Regions from separate parts of the Homo sapiens genome. Here region 1 is linked to region 2. The links come from fine-mapping of genetic effects on gene expression. Tissue or cell type: whole blood. Region 2 holds a variant in brackets; the other region holds the start of a gene. All regions are shown on one strand. Distances are between the middles of the regions.

The links. PIP is the estimated chance that this variant, and not a neighbour inherited with it, causes the effect.
Region 1: it holds the start of BFSP2-AS1, and the variant in region 2 is fine-mapped to the expression of BFSP2-AS1 in whole blood (TOPMed, PIP above 0.99).

The regions. Positions count from the first base shown.
Region 1 is chr3:133,487,336-133,495,441 of GRCh38, forward strand. BFSP2-AS1 (BFSP2 antisense RNA 1) reads right to left here and starts at 3,774. Exons shown (of 4, transcript NR_189064.1): 1 at 3,567-3,774. It also overlaps the pseudogene MAF1P1. RefSeq lists enhancers at 44-544, 1,696-1,745, 1,766-1,895.
Region 2 is chr3:133,428,607-133,436,712 of GRCh38, forward strand. All of the region lies in intron 1 of BFSP2 (beaded filament structural protein 2), which reads left to right. The region is part of intron 3 of BFSP2-AS1 (BFSP2 antisense RNA 1); the gene reads right to left. Among named protein-coding and RNA genes, the nearest start is that of BFSP2, 33 kb to the left of the region's middle. The variant G/T (reference allele first, on the strand shown) is at 4,215.

The DNA.
Region 1 (8,106 bases), 59 kb after region 2:
GTGCAGGAATGCCTAGGTCTGCAGGGCAGCTGGGCAGTTGCAGCTGCACCTGGGAGGGTGGGGCTCCTGTCTCTCCAACCAGGAATGAGTCCTGGCTTCCTCCTGTTCCCAGCTTCCACCGGCTCCTGCCAGCTTCCACCGGCTCTTGCCAGCTTCCTGGAGTACACAGCCCTGGTGTGCCTCCCCTACTGCAGCCAGCGTCTTTGCAGCAGCTGCTCCAGATAAGCTGCCACTGCCATCACTTGGAAGGTTGAGGTGGGAGAGATTGCTTGAGCCCAGGAAGTGGGGACTGTAGGGAGCCATGATCATGCCATTACACTCCAGCCTGGGTGACAGATCGAGATCCTGTTTTTAAAAATATAAATAAGGCCAGACACGGTGGCTCACGCCTGTAATCCCAGCACTTTGGGAGGTCGAGACTGGTGGATCACAAGGTCAGGAGTTCGAGAACAGCCTGGCCAACATGGTAAAACCCCGTCTCTACTTAAAATCTAAAAATTAGCCAGGTGTAGTGGCAGGCGCCTGTCATCCCAGCTACACAGGAGGCTGAGGCAGGAGAATTGCTTGAACCCTGGAGGTGGAGGTTGCAGTGAGCTGAGACTGCACCACTGCACTCCAGCCTGGGGAACAGAGCAAGACTCTGTCTCAAAAATAATAATAATAAAAAATAAATAATAAATAAAAGTGAGCATCCTTCCTGATTTTTAAGAAACTCCCTGTCAGTAATTGTTAGGGGGCTAATCTTCTCAGGTTACAAGACAGACCTCTAGGGGGCAGTGTTGTCCAAACTCCACAGGCCAGCCTGCTGGTCTCAGGGGGACCCATCTTGAGTACCCTATTATGTACTATGTTCATGGAACCTAAGGCATCATTGATTAATAGAGATACCATTACTGGATGTGCCACTAAAAATGAAACTACTCCAGATAGAAGTCTATTAGACCCCAGATAAAGCTGAGACACTAAAGGCCTCTGTGGAGGGGGTCCATGAGAAATATACAGAAAAAAGAGAAAGAAAGGGACATGCATAGTAGGACAGCAAGAGAAGTTGCATGTTTCAATTTTGCCATGGATGGAGGAAGTAAAATCTGCCCGTATAATTTGAATCAAAAGTTGGTTCTCATGCAGTTTTCTGGTACTACTTGTGCCATCAAAAAAACCTCAGAGAATTTAATGTACAAATGCACCTCAACTTATGATGATGTTATGTCCTGATAAACCATCATAAGGTGACTATATCATAAGTCAACTTTATCCAGTTGTAAGTTGAGAAGCACACTGAATGCATATTGTTTTCACACTATCACAAAGTTGGAAAATCATAAGCTGAAACATCGTAAAGTTAGGGACCACCTGTAGTTTCACATTATTATGAGTTCCTTGGCAAGGGTAGAACCCAAAGCTTATATAATTTGATGCCCTCTTTTAAAAAAGAAATACAAAATATCTTACTCTTGCAAATTTTATAAAAACCTATGATGAGGCTGAGTGTGGTGGTTCACATCTGTGATCCCAGCGCTTTGGGAGGCTGAGACAGGCAGATCACTTGAGGCCAGGAATTTGAGACCATCCTGGCCAACATGGCAAAACTGCATCTCTCTACTAAAAATACAAAGAAAATTAGCTGGGTGTGGTGGCACGTGCCTCAGCTACTCTGGAGTCTGAAGCATGGGAATCACTTCAACTTGGGAGGCAGAGTTTGCAGTGAGCTGAGATAGCAACACTGCACTCCAACCTGGGCAACAGATTGAGACTGTCTCAGAAAAAAAATATGTAATTTGATCCCATGAAGCTGTGAGGTGGAACCCTTTCAGGACCTTGGAAGGGCCATGCAAATGAGGTGTCCTGAAGCTTTACTCTCATTGGTAACTCAGCCTGTGCCCCAAGTGACAGGCAGAAGCAAAGAAAAATCCTCTACAAATGAACACAATTTTAATCGAAACAACAGCAATCACAACATACCATCAACTATTATCATATCCTGACTTCAGAGATGTTAAAGTACACAACAGTATGCTTCTTAGGAGCAATGAAATATGATATTTCAAAAAGAAAAAAGATAATGTAAATTTTGACCCTGACTTGGCTAAGACAATAACACATGACAACAACAATGATGATAGCTATCATTTATCAAGCTCCTACAGTGTGCCAGCCTTCTCACAAACTTTTTTTCTGCTCCTCACATGAGCTTAATGCCACCACCAAAGACTTGAAAGATACAAGGTAGTGATTCCTACCAAATCCACAATTAACTCACTTGTTTGATCAGTGTACAAATCAAGTAGGTCATAGAAAATGACCACAGATCATCACGGACTAATCCAGTGGTGAGGTGAATCACAACCAGAATTGCAGAGACGGTATTTTTACTGGAGCAAATCCACACAGTCCCTGGCACCTGGGCCACTATTGACCTGGCAAATGCTTTATCCTGCCCACCCCCACCTTAATCCTCTTCTGCCCTGTTGTGGCAGGGACAGCAGTATACTTTTACTGTCCTGCCTCCGGGCTATGTCGGCTTGCCTGCACTTAGTCAGAATGCAATCTGGAGGGACCCAGAAGCCCAAGCTGATCCATTACATATCTTTATCATGCTAATTGGACCTGGAGAGCCCCAAAGAGCTAGCACCTAAATGCCTTAGTAAAGTACCTGCAATGCCAGAAAATGGGAGATAAAGCCTGACAATATTCAGGAGTCTGCCACATGCGTGAAGCCTCTAGAGTCCAGTGGTCTGGGCTTTGTTGGGATAGACCTTCTAACATGAGATTCAAGTTGTACTTTACACCAGAAAGAGCCATGAAGAAAAAGATATGAAGCTTAATTTTCAGAAGTAACACAAACCAGATTTGAGTATCTGTTGCTGTGAACCACTAACTCAAGTAACCCTTAAGGGTACAAGGTTTTTGGCTTTTGTTTTTGAATTTTTATTTTAACATAATTTCAGGCTTACAGAGCAGTTGAAAGAATAGTTGAAGAATTGCCATATACCCTTCACTCAGATTTCACAAATATTAACATTTTCATAGGCAGACAGAAGCAAATTATTTTTAAGTTGAAGTAGTTAAGTTTCTTTTATACTTATTTAGTTCTAGGAATTTTGACTGATAGACATTGACTGGTGGGGGAGGTGGAGGTTGCTGGCTGACCAAGGTGATCTGTGGTGGTTGGTGGCATGTTGGTGGCTAAAGCAGGCAATGTGCAGTGTGGTAAGGATGTGTCATAGTGACCACCTGGATGAGCCAGCAGGGCCAGGTATAATGAAACATTGCCATGGAGTTTCTTCCCCCAGATACAGTGTGGCCCAGGTGGATGCCACGGTGCCACCCTCTGGTGCTGAGGAGCCCACACTGTGCGGAGCCTGCCCTGCCTATGCACCGGTGCCGATGACCCAGCCAGGCCTGATTTAGCCCCACCAGGCAGGCAGCAATGGCCCCTCTCAAGCATGGAGCTCCCTCCCTGAGACAGGAAGCTATTGGAGAACTGGGCTTTGAAGCCATCAACTCACAGCTAACTGTAGAGAGCAAAGATACCCACATTATCAGCAGGATTGAGAGCTACTCACGTAAGATAGCAGGAGACGACAAACACTGTTCTGACAGGAGGGCGGCCCACATACTGAAGGCTCTCTCCCCATCCCAGACCTCAGGCCTCAGCCCCAGCAGCCTGAGCAAGAACCAAGGTGGCAAGGACAAGGGCCCCCCTCAGGGACAAGTGCAATTGCAAGACCCTCTTCCACTTGATTGTCATGCTCAGCGAGTCCTTTCAGGCCTGACTATGACCTCAGCACAGCCCGCAGCCATGGGTTCAGCCGGAAGCCCAGCCTCAGGTGGGTGGTGAATGCAGTCAACCGCAGTCTGTTCTCAGCTGCGTGGGGGGACATCAAGGTCCTAGAACACAGCTGTGGAACACAGTGGATGAGGAGATCCACCTGGCTTAATGAGACACCCACAGCTATAACCCAGACATGGACCCAGATGCCTTCAGAGAAGAAGATACCCTCTGGTCCTTCAACTACTTCTTCTACAACAAAGGGCTCAAGCAAATTGTTTTCTTCAGCCACCGCTCCATTAGCAGCTCCACCTGCACACCCTCAGAGGCAGGCAACGAGATGGACCTGGAACTGGGGGAAGAGGAGGAAGAGAAAGGAAGCAGAGGTGGAGGCAGTGAGGGTGGGGCCGAAGAGACCAGACCAAGGAGGACAGGTTCCCAGTGATTTGTATGTGATGAGGAGTAGCACAGGCCCCAGCTTCATCCAGCTTCAACCAATGCCTGGACCTGCCCACCTGAGAGGCCCTGAGGCCTCCCCAGCTGCAGGCCAGACCCTGGTGCTGTCAGAGTCTCAGCACTGCCCAAGGCCACACCTGCCTGGCCCTTTGGCTCCAGCCTGTAGGTGTCCACTCAACCCCATAGGCTTCTGCTGCCCACGCTGTGGCTGGACTAGACAGCACAGGACCTGCTGCAAAGAGTAACCACCTTGCCCAAACGAACTACCACAGGCAGGGACAGCTAGACCACAGAGTTTATTTTTGTATTTCTGCTGGGCCTGCACACTCCAGCCCAAAGGGCTTATAGCCAGAGGCCCCAGAGGTCATGAGCTCTAGTCTTGGGTCAGCTCTTGGCACCCACCTGTACCCCCACCTCACCCATTTGGCTGCATGCACTGAGTGTCACTTTGCTGCAGCTCATTGCTTTCCAATAAAAATGTTTGTGACTTAAAAAAAATTGAGACAAAAATTTAAAAATTTTATAACATGCTCATGAATGCTGGCAACCTCACCTCCACCAGCACCCCACCCCAGCTGCCACCACCGCCAGTACAAGTGCAACACCAGCAACCCCACGGCTGCCAGTGCCCCAGCCCCCATTTTCCCCCCTACCAATGCACCACCACCACCACTGGCATGAGCACATGCAGGAACACCGCCTCCCCATTTCTGCTGGAACCCCTCCCCAGCTAACACGTGTGCACCCCGCCATGCTGCTGCAGCTGCTGCCATACATCAGTAAGCACAGATCTCACTGACACCACCCTGACCAAGTGCTTTGGCTAGCATCTTCCATCACAGTGCTGTGGCCAGCAGACTGGGAACAACTCAGCCCCTCCAGCAGAATAGATTCCTAACCTTGAGGGTTCAGATAGCACAGCCAGGCGCCCAGCACCAGCCCTCCCAGAGTTAGAGCACGCAGCCCAGGAGTGCTGAGCTGAGTCTGGGCCCCCTAAAATCTTCCAGAAATGAAGCAAGTCAACCAAACCCACCATATACCACAATCAAACCAAGATCATCAAAGAAGATAAAAGCAGAAAACCTCTCCAAAGCACATCAACTTCAAAAATTGAAGGAACATCAGCCCACACAGATGAGAAAGAACTAGTGTGAGAACTCTGGCAACTCAAAAACCAGAGTGTCTTCTTACCTCCAAACCACCACACTAATTCTCTAGCAATCGTCCCTAGCCAGCCTGAAATGGCTGAAATGACAGACATAGAATTCAGAAAATGGATAGGAATGAAGATCATTGAGATTCAGGAGAAAGTTGCAACCCCATCCAAGGAATCAATAAGATGCTACAGGAGATGAAGGATGAAATGGCTATTTTAAGAAAAAAATAAACTGATCCGATAGACCTAAAAAACTCACTTCAAGAATTTAGTAATACAATCTCAAGTATTAATAGTAGAATAGACCAAACTGAGGAAACACTCTCAGAGCTTGAAGACCGTTCTCCAAAATAACTCAGTCAGACAAAAATAAAGAAAAAAAGAATTTAAAAGTATGAATAAAACCTCCGAGAAATACAGGTTATGTAAAGAGACCAGATCTACAGTTCACTGGCATCCCTGAAAGAGAAGGAGAGAAAGCAAGCTACTTGGAAAACATATTTGAGGATATTGCCGGTGAATATTTCCCCAACCTTGCTAGAGGCCAACATTCAAAGGCAGGAAATGCAGAGAACCCCTGCCAGACGCTATAAAAGATCACTATCCCCAAGACACATAGTCATCAGATTCTGTAAGGTCGAAATAAAGAAAAAGTTTTAAAGGCAGCTAGAGAGAAACAGCAGGTCACCTACAAAGGAAACACCATTAGGCTAACAGCAGGCCTTTCAGTAGAAACTATACAACCAGAAAAGATGGGGGGGGCCTATATTCAGCATTTTTTTTTTTAAAGAAATTCCGGCCAGGTGCAGTGACTCACACCTGTAATCCCAGCACTTTGGGAGGCCGAGGCAGGTGGATCACCTGAGGTCAGGAGTTTGAGACCACCTGACCGACACAGTAAAACTCCATCTCTACTAAAAATACAAAAATTAGCCAGGCATGGTGGTGGGCACCTGTAATCCCAGCTACTTGGGAGGCTGAGTCAGGAGAATCACTTGAACCCGAGATGGAGGTTGCTGTGAGCCAAGATGGCGCCATCGCACTCCAGCCTGAATGACAGAGTGAGACCCCATCTCAAAGAAAATAAATAAATAAAATAAAAAAGAAATTCCAACCAAGAATTTCATATTCAGCCAACTGAGCCTCATAAGTGAAGGAAAAACAAGATCCTTTTCAGATAAGTAAATACTAAGAAAATTTGTTACCCTTATATAATTAATATTCTATAATGGTAAAGGTTTCAATTCAACAAGAAAACCTAACTATCGTAAATACATATCCACCCAACACAGGAGCACCCAGATTCATAAAACAAGTTCTTGGAGACCTAAGAAGAAATTCAGATAACCACACAATAATAGTGGGAGACTTCAACACCCCACTGACAGTATTAGACGGATCATCAAGGCAGAAAACTGGTAAAGATGTTCAGGACCTGAACTCAACAAAACCAAATGGACCTAATAGACACGACAGAACTCCTTATTAGAAGCGAAGAAAAGACACTCCCAATATAATAGTCTCTCACTATTACTGTGTGGTGACAAAGACCCTATCTCTAAAAATAAAAAGTTTAAAAAAAAATCAAGAAATTAGCATTGGTGATAATATTATTATCCAGTCTGAATATTCTATTCAGATGTTGCCAGATGTCTCAATAATGTCCTTTAGAACAAAAGAACATTTTAGATCACAAGTAACATTCAGTTGTTATGTCTCTTTAGTCTACTTGAATCTGAAGAAGTCCTCAGCCTTTCCATCTGCATTTCATGACATTGGCATTCTGACAAACACAAATGTATTAGTTTCCTAGGCCGGCCATAACAAATGATTACAAACCGGATGGCTTTAAACAGCACAAAGTTATTTTCCCACTGCTCTGATAGCTAGAAGTCCAAAATCAAGGTGTCAGCGGGGCTGTGCTCCCCCCAGAAACCTGTAGGGGGAATCTTTTCTTGCATATTCCCAGCTTCCAGTGGTTGCCGGCAGCCCCTGGTGTGCCTTGGTTTGCAGCTGCAGCCCTGCAGCCCCTGCCTCTGTCTTCACGTGTTGTTCTCCCTTTGCGTGTCTGTGTCTCTGTGGCTTTTCTTCTCTTCTAATAAGGATACCTGTCATATTGGATTAAAGGCCCATTCTCCTCTAGTAGGACCTCATCTTAATTAATTACATCTGCAACAACTCTTATTTCCAAATCAGGTCACGTTCTGACATAGTGGGGATTCAAACTTCAACATATCTTTTTTTGGAGTCACAGTTCAATCCGTCTCAACAGGGCAGTTATTTTACAAAATACTCCTCAACTTGAGTTCTGGTATTTCCTCAGGTTAGATTCAAGTTGCACACTTTCAGTTGGAATACCATAAAACTCACCAGGAGGCATGTGATATCAATATGTCCCTCTCCTGGTGATATTAATTTTGTTTACTGGGTTCAGGTGGCGTGTGCCAAGCTTCTCCACTGTAAAGTTACTGTTTTTCCATTTGTAATTAGTAAGTATCTTGTGGAAAAATATTTTTAGTCTATTTTGAGTAAATATTGTTATTCCTCAAACTTTCTGTCCCAGAAGTTTTAGTTTTAGCATCAATTGATGATTCCTGCCCACGTCAATTATTACTTATTATGGTTGCCAAATGGTGATTTTCAAATTCCATCATTTCTTCTACATTTTTTAGTTGGCTTTCTTCTATAAGAAAAAATGTTCTGGCCGGGCACGGTGGCTCGC
Region 2 (8,106 bases):
ACTTAGATTCCTCTGATGTTGGCAAGTGCCCAGGAAATATCTTGTCAGAGGAAAGTCGGGGATAACTGTCTGTGCAGGGCCACCTTCGGGTAAACACGCAGGGCCTGTTGGAGAGCCACCTGGGTGACTGGGACTGCGTCCACATGACCTCTGCAGTCACCCCGCCCACTGTTCCCTAAGGCCACACTTCCATACCGCCTGCCCTCGCTCTGACCTGCCTTCTCCATCAAACTTGTCCCAGCCAGTCTCTCCCTGTGTCTGTCAGGGTCCCAAGATGTATCAGCCACTGTGCTAGTTTTCTTTTCCAAGTTGATTTTATTTATGCGATCGATCTCATTCTGTTCTTAATTATGAAATATTTTTAACACATAAAAAGCCACCTAATACTCAGCATTGTCAACTCAGTGTTATTTGTTAAAAAACCTTTTTTTAAAACCTGAAATCAAAGATTTTAGATATAATTGAAACTCCCCTTGTACTCTGTCCTGATTGAATTCCACCCCCACCCCCCCAGAGGTCACTGCTGCCCTAAATTTGGTGCTTACCACTCCCATGAAAGTTTTACTACATATGTATAAAACCTTTCCTAGGACTATTTTGCATTATTTTAAACTTTATGTTAAATTGTGTTATACTGTGTATTAGTCAGGGTTCTCCAGGGAAACATAACCATAGAATGTGTACAGAGAGAGATTTATTTTAGGGAATTGGCTCACACAGTTATGGAGGCTAGAAGTCCAAGATCAAAGTGTCAGCAGGTTGGGAGGCCCAGTGAAGAGGTGACACTGCAGTTCAAGGCTGAAGGCTGTCTGCTGGTGGAATCCTATTTTCTCAGGGGACCTCAGTCTTTGCTCTGTTAAATCCCGCAACTGATTGGATGAGAATACCCACATTATGGCACGCAGGCAACCTGCTTTACTCAAAGTCCACCAATGTCAATGTTAGTCTCATCCAAAAACACCTTCACGGAAACATCTAGATTGTTTGACCATCACATATTATTTCCATCTGCAACTTACTTTCTTCACTTATTGTGTTTTTGAGATTTATCTGTGTTGACAAATCTATCATTTCATTGTATATGAGGGGACTTCAAAATGTTCCTGGAAAAAAAATGGAATTAAGAGATAAAAATACAAAATGTAAACTTTTTTTTTTTTTATTATACTTTAAGTTTTAGGGTACATGTGCACAATGTGCAGGTTAGTTACATATGTATACATGTGCCATGTTGGTGTGCTGCACCCATTAACTCGTCATTTAGCATTAGGTATATCTCCTAATGCTATCCCTCCCCACTACCCCCACCCCACAACAGTCCCCGGTGCGTGATGTTCCCCTTCCTGTGTCCATGTGTTCTCATTGTTCAATTCCCACCTATGAGTGAGAACATGCGGTGTTTGGTTTTTTGTCCTTGTGATAGTTTGCTGAGAATGATGGTTTCCAGTTTCATCCATGTCCCTACAAAGGACATGAACTCATCCTTTTTTATGGCTGCATAGTATTCCATAGTGTATATGTGCCACATTTTCTTAATCCAGTCTATCATTGTTGGACATTTGGGTTGGTTCCAAGTCTTTGCTATTGTGAATAGTGCCGTAATAAACATACGTGTGCATGTGTCTTTATAGCAGCATGATTTATAATCCTTTGGGTATATACCCAGTAACGGGATGGCTGGGTCAAATGGTATTTCTAGTTCTAGATCCCTGAGGAATCGCCACACTGACTTCCACAACGGTTGAACTAGTTTACAGTCCCACCAACAGTGTAAAAGTGTTCCTATTTCTCCACATCCTCTCCAGCACCTGTTGTTTCCTGACTTTTTAATGATCGCCATTCTAACTGGTGTGAGATGGTATCTCATTGTGGTTTTGATTTGCATTTCTCTGATTTTCTTCTGCAATGCCGCTTGACCCCAATACATACTCGACAGTAGTTCCAAATAGCCAGAAAACGGCACTTTCAATTTTTCCACCCTACAAGATCTAAATAATTCTTGTCATAAAATGGGCAAATGGTCTGAGGTGCCTGACGTCCAGGCATTCTTTTACGCATCGGTCCCTCTCTAGTCTCTGTTCCCAATGCAACTCATCCCAAATCTTCCTTCTTTCCCTCCCGCCTGTCCCCTCAGTCCCAACCCCAAGCGTCGCTGAGTCTTTCTAATCTTCCTTTTCTACAGACCCATCTGACCTCTCCCCTCCTCACCAGGCCGAGCTAGGTCCCAATTCTTCCTCAGCCTCCGCTCCTCCACCCTGGTCCGCTCCTTTTATCACCTCCCCTCCTCACACCTGGTCCGGCTTATGGTTTCATTCCGTGACTAGCCCTCCCCCACCTGCCCAGCAATTTACTCTTAAAAAGGTGGCTGGAGCTGAAGGCATAGTCAAGGTTAATGCTCCTTTTTCTTTACCCCAAATCAGATAGCGTTTAGGCTCTTTTTCATCAAATATAAAAAACCCAGCCCAGTTCATGGTTCGTTCGGCAGCAACCCTGAGACGCTTTACAGCCCTAGACCCTAAAAGGTCAAAAGGCCGTCTTATTCTCAATATACATTTTATTACCCAATCTGCTCCTGACATTAAATAAAACTCCAAAAATTAAATTCCGGCCCTCAAACCCCACAACAGGATTTAATTAACCTCGCCTTCCAGGTGTACAATAATAGAAAAAAGTTGCAATTCCTTGCCTCCACTCTGAGACAAATCCCAGCCACATCTCCAGCACACAAGAACTTCCAAACACCTGAACCGCAGCAGCCAGGCGTTCCTCCAGAACCTCCTCCCCCAGGAGCTTGCTTCAAGTGCCAGAAATCTGACCACCAGGCCAAGGAATGCCCGCAGCCCAGGATTCCTCCTAAGCCGTGTCCCATCTGTGCGGGACCCCACTGGAAATCGGACTGTTCAACTCACCTGGCAGCCACTCCCAGAGCCCCTGGAACTCTGGCCCGAGGCTCTCTGACTGACTCCTTCTTGGCTTAGCGGCTGAAGACTGATGCTGCCCGATCGCCTCAGAAGCCCCGCAGACCATCACGGACGCCGAGCTTTAGGTAACTCTCACAGCGGAGGGTAAGTCCATCCCCTTCTTATCAATACGAGGCTACCCACTCCACATTACCTTCTTTTCAAGGGTCTATTTCCCTTGCCTCCATAACTGTTGTGGGTATTGACAGCCAGGCTTCTAAACCTCTTAAAACTCCCCAACTCTGGTGCCAACTTAGACAATACCCTTTTAAGCACTCCTTTTTAGTTATCCCCACCTGCCCCGTTCCCTTATTAGGCCGAGACACTTTAAATTATCTGCTTCCCTGACTATTCCTGGATTACAGCCGCATCTCATTGCCGCCCTTCTCCCCAACCCAAAGCCTCCTTTGCGTCTTCCTCTCATATCCCCCCACCTTAACCCACAAGTATGGAACATCTCTACTCCTTCCCTGGCAACCGATCACATGCCCATCACCATCCCATTAAAACCTAATCACCCTTACCCCTCTCAACGCCAATGTCCCATCCCACAGCACGCTTTAAAGGGATTAAAGCCTGTTATCACTCGCCTGCTACAGCATGGGCTTCTAAAACCTATAAACTCTCCTTACAATTCCCCCATTTTACCTGTCCAAAAACCGCACAAGTCTTACAGATTAGTTCAGGATCTGCGCCTTATCAACCAAATTGTTTTGCCTATCCGCCCTGTGGTGCCCAACCGGTACACCCTTTCGTCCTCAATACCTTCCTCCACAACTCACTATTCCGTTCTTGATCTTAAAGATGCTTTTTTCACTATTCCCCTGCACCCCTCGTCCCAGCCTCTCTCTGCTTTCACCTGGACTGACGCTGACACCCATCAGTCCCAGCAGCTTACCTGGGCTGTGCTGCCACAAGGTTTCAGGGACAGCTCTCATTACTTCAGCCAAGCTCTTTCTCATGATTTACTTTCTTTCCACCCCTCTGCTTCTCACCTTATTCAATATATTGATGATCTTCTTCTTTGTAGCCCCTCCTTTGAATCTTCTCAACAAGACACACCTCTGCTCCTTCAGCATTTATTCTCCAAAGGATATCGAGTATCCCCCTCCAAAGCTCAAATTTCTTCTCCATCGGTTACCTACCTCGGCATAATTCTTCATAAAAACACACGTGCTCTCCCTGCCGATCGTGTCCGACTAATCTCTCAAACCCCAGCACCTTCTACAAAACAACAACTCCTTTCCTTCCTAG[G/T]CATGGTTAGCGCGGTCAGAATTCTTACACAAGAGCCAGGACCACATCCTGCAGCCTTTCTGTCCAAACAACTTGACCTTACTGTTTTAGCCTAGCCCTCATGTCCGCGTGCAGCGGCTGCCGCTGCTTTAATACTTTTAGAGGCCCTCAAAATCACAAACTATGCTCAACTCACTCTCTACATTTCTCATAACTTCCAAAATCGATTTTCTTCCTCATACCTGACACATATACTTTCTGCTCCCCGGCACCTTCAGCTGTACTCACTCTTTGTTAAGTCCCACAATTACTATTGTTCCTGGCCAGGACTTCAATCTGGCCTCCCACATTATTCCTGATACCACACCTGACCCCCATGACTGTATCTCTCTGATCCACCTGACATTCATCCCATTTCCCCATATTTGCTTCTTTCCTGTTCCTCACCCTGATCACACTTAGTTTTTTGATGGCAGTTCCACCAGGCCTAATCGCCACACACCAGCAAAGGCAGGCTATGCTATAGTACAAGCCACTAGCCTGCCTCTTAAGAACCTCTCATTTCCTTTCCATTGTGGAAATCTATCCTCAAGGAAATAACTTCTCAGTGTTCCATCTGCTGTTCTACTACTCATCAGGGATTATTCAGGCCCCCTCCCTTTCCTACACATCAAGCTCGAGGATTTGCCCCCACCCAGGACTGGCAAATTAGCTTTACTCAAAGCCCCGAGTCAGATAACTAAACTACCTCTTAGTCTAGGTAGACACTTTCACTGGATAGGTAGAGTCCTTTCCTACAGGGTCTGAGAAGGCCACCGCAGTCATTTCTTCCCTTCTGTCAGACATAATTCCTCAGTTTAGCCTTCCCACCTCTATACATTCTGATAACAGACCAGCCTTTATTAGTCAAATCAGCCAAGCATTTTTTCAGGCTCTTAGTATTCAGTGACAGACTAGCGGTCTATTAAAAACACACCTCACCAAGCTCAGCCAGCAACTTAAAAAGGACTGAACAATACTTTTACCACTTTCGCTTCTCAGAATTCAGGCCTGTCCTCGGAATGCTACAAGGTACAGCCCATTTAAGCTCCCGTATAGACGCTCCTTTTTATTAGGCCCCAGTCTCTTTCCAGACACCAGACCAACTTAGACTGTGCCCCAAAAAACTTGTCATCCCTATCTTCTGTCTAATCATACTCCTATTCACCGTTCTCAACTACTCATACATGCCCTGCTCTTGTTTACACTGCCAGTTTACACTGTTTCTCCAAGCCATCACAGCTGATATCTCTTGGTGCTATTCCCAAACCGCCACTCTAAACTCTTGAAGTAAATAAATAATTTTTGCTGGCAGGACTATGCTGAATCTCCTTAGGCACTCACTAATCAGATGTCCTAGGTCCTGCCAATTCTTAGACCTTTTATACCTGTTTTTCTCCTTCTCTTATTCCATTTAGTTTTTCAATTCATACAAAACCGTATCCAGGCCATCACCAATAATTCTACACGACAAATGTTTCTTCTAACATCCCCACAATATCACCCCTTACCACAAAAATCTTCCTTCAGCTTAATCTCTCCCACTCTAGGTTCCCACGCAGCCCCTAATCCCGCTCGAAGCAGCCCTGAGAAACATCGCCCATTCTCTCTCTCCATACCACCCCCCAAAAATTTTCGCCGCCCCAACACTTCAACACCATTTTATTTTTCTTATTAATATAAGAAGGCAGGAATGTCAGGCCTCTGAGCCCAAGCCAAGCCATCGCAACCCCTGTGACTTGCATGTATATGCCCAGATGGCCTGAAGTAACTGAAGAATCACAAAAGAAGTGAATATGCCCTGCCCCACCTTAACTGATGATATTCCACCACAAAACAAGTGTAAATGGCCGGTCCTTGCCTTAAGTGATGACATTACCTTGTGAAAGTCCTTTTCCTGGCTCATCCTGGCTCAAAAAGCTACCCCACTGAGCACCTTGTGACCCCCACTCCTGCCCACCAGAGAACAAACCCCCTTTGACTGTAATTTTCCTTTACCTGCCCAAATCTTATAAAACGGCCCCACCCCTATCTCCCTTCGCTGACTCTTTTCGGACTCAGCCCACCTGCACCCAGGTGAAATAAACAGCTCCATCAAGTTCAAGACACTTTTGTAAGCAATGATAGCAGCCATTTAGTTCATCCCTAAAGAACTGAGGGCCTTGGGAATTTAGCAATGTTAGTGCAGTCTTTTCACATTATTAACTGAAGAAAAATGAGTGCCCTTTAAAGATTTTTTAAGATTAGGAAACAAAAAGAAGCCAGAAGGAGCCAAATCAGGACTGTAAGGTGGACGCCTAATGATTTTCTACTGAAACTCTTGCAAAATTGCCATTATTCAATAAGAGGAATGGGCAGAAGCATTTGTCATGATGGAGGACTCTCTAGTGAAGCTTTCTCAGGTGTTTTTCTGCTAATGCTTTAGCTAACTCTCAAAACACTCTTATAATAAGCAGATGTTGTCATTTTTTGCCCTCCAGAAAGTCAACAAGCAAAATGCCCTGAGCATCACAAACTGTTGCCATGACCTTTGCTCTTGACCTGTCTCTCTTTGCTATGACCGGACCCCTTCCATCATTTGCTAGCCATTTCTTTGATTGTGCTTTGTCTTCAGGATTGTACTGGTAAAGCTATGTTTCATCTCTTGTTACAATTCCTTGAAGAAATGCTTCAGAATCTTGGTCTCACATGTTTAAAATTTCCATTGAAAACTCTGCTCTTGTCTGCGGCTGAGCTGGGCAAAACAGTGTTGGCACCCATTAAGTGGAAAGTTCGCTTAACTTTAATTTTTCGGTCAGAATTGTGTAAGCTGAACCAATGGATATGTTTATGGTGTCAGCTATTCTTTCTGCGATCAATAATTGGTCCTCTTCAATTAGGGCATGTACAAGATGAATTTTTCCCTTGCAAATTGTCTGCTGCTATGGCCTTCGTCTTCAACATCATTTTATTCTTTCTTAAATGAATTATCCATTTGTAAACTGCTGATTTCTTTAGGGCATTGTCCCCATAAACTTTTCATAAAGCTCCCATGATTTCATTATTTTTCTACTCAAGCTTCACCACAAATTTGATGTTTTCTCTTGCTTTAATTTTTTCTGAATTCATGTTGCTATGATAGGGGCTCTTTCCAAACTGATGTCTTATACTTCTTAGTGCCTCTTATATCTGATTCTGAACTATTCTGTTCAGATATAAGAACTTAGTATGAGTTTATTTTGGTGCAAAAAAATTTGAAATTTAGGCTGGGCACGATGGCTTATGTCTGTAATCTCAGCACTTTTGGAGGCCGAGGCAGGTGGATCACTTGAGGCCATTGCTACTAAAAATACAAAAAATTAGCTGAGTGCAGTGTCGTGTGCCTGTAGTCCCAGCTACTGGGTAGACTGAGGCACAAGAATACCTTGAACCCAGGAGGTGGAGCTTGCAGTGAGCCAAGTTCTCTTTGCTGCACTCCAGCCAGGGTGACAGAGAGAGACTCTGTCTCAAAAAAAAAAAAAAAAAAAAATCTATGTATTGTTTTTTCATAATACACATTTTTTTCCATGAATTTATTGAAGGTTCCTTGTCTATATGATAGGTTATGACTTTTTCTGTTGATAGGCATAGGTTGCTTCCAATTTTTCTATCACAAACAAGAGAGAGCATAAGCTCTCTCTAGTGAGGAACTGCCATGGCATAATACATAACAAGTGCTTAAAAAGCATTTGGGTTTGACTTGTTTGGCTTACTATGCACCTGGTACTGTCAAGACAAAGCAGCTCAATTTTATTTTTTATTATTATACTTTAAGTTCTAGGGTACCTGTGCACAACGTGCAGGTTTGTTACATATGTACACATGTGCCATGTTGGTGTGCTGCACCCATTAACTT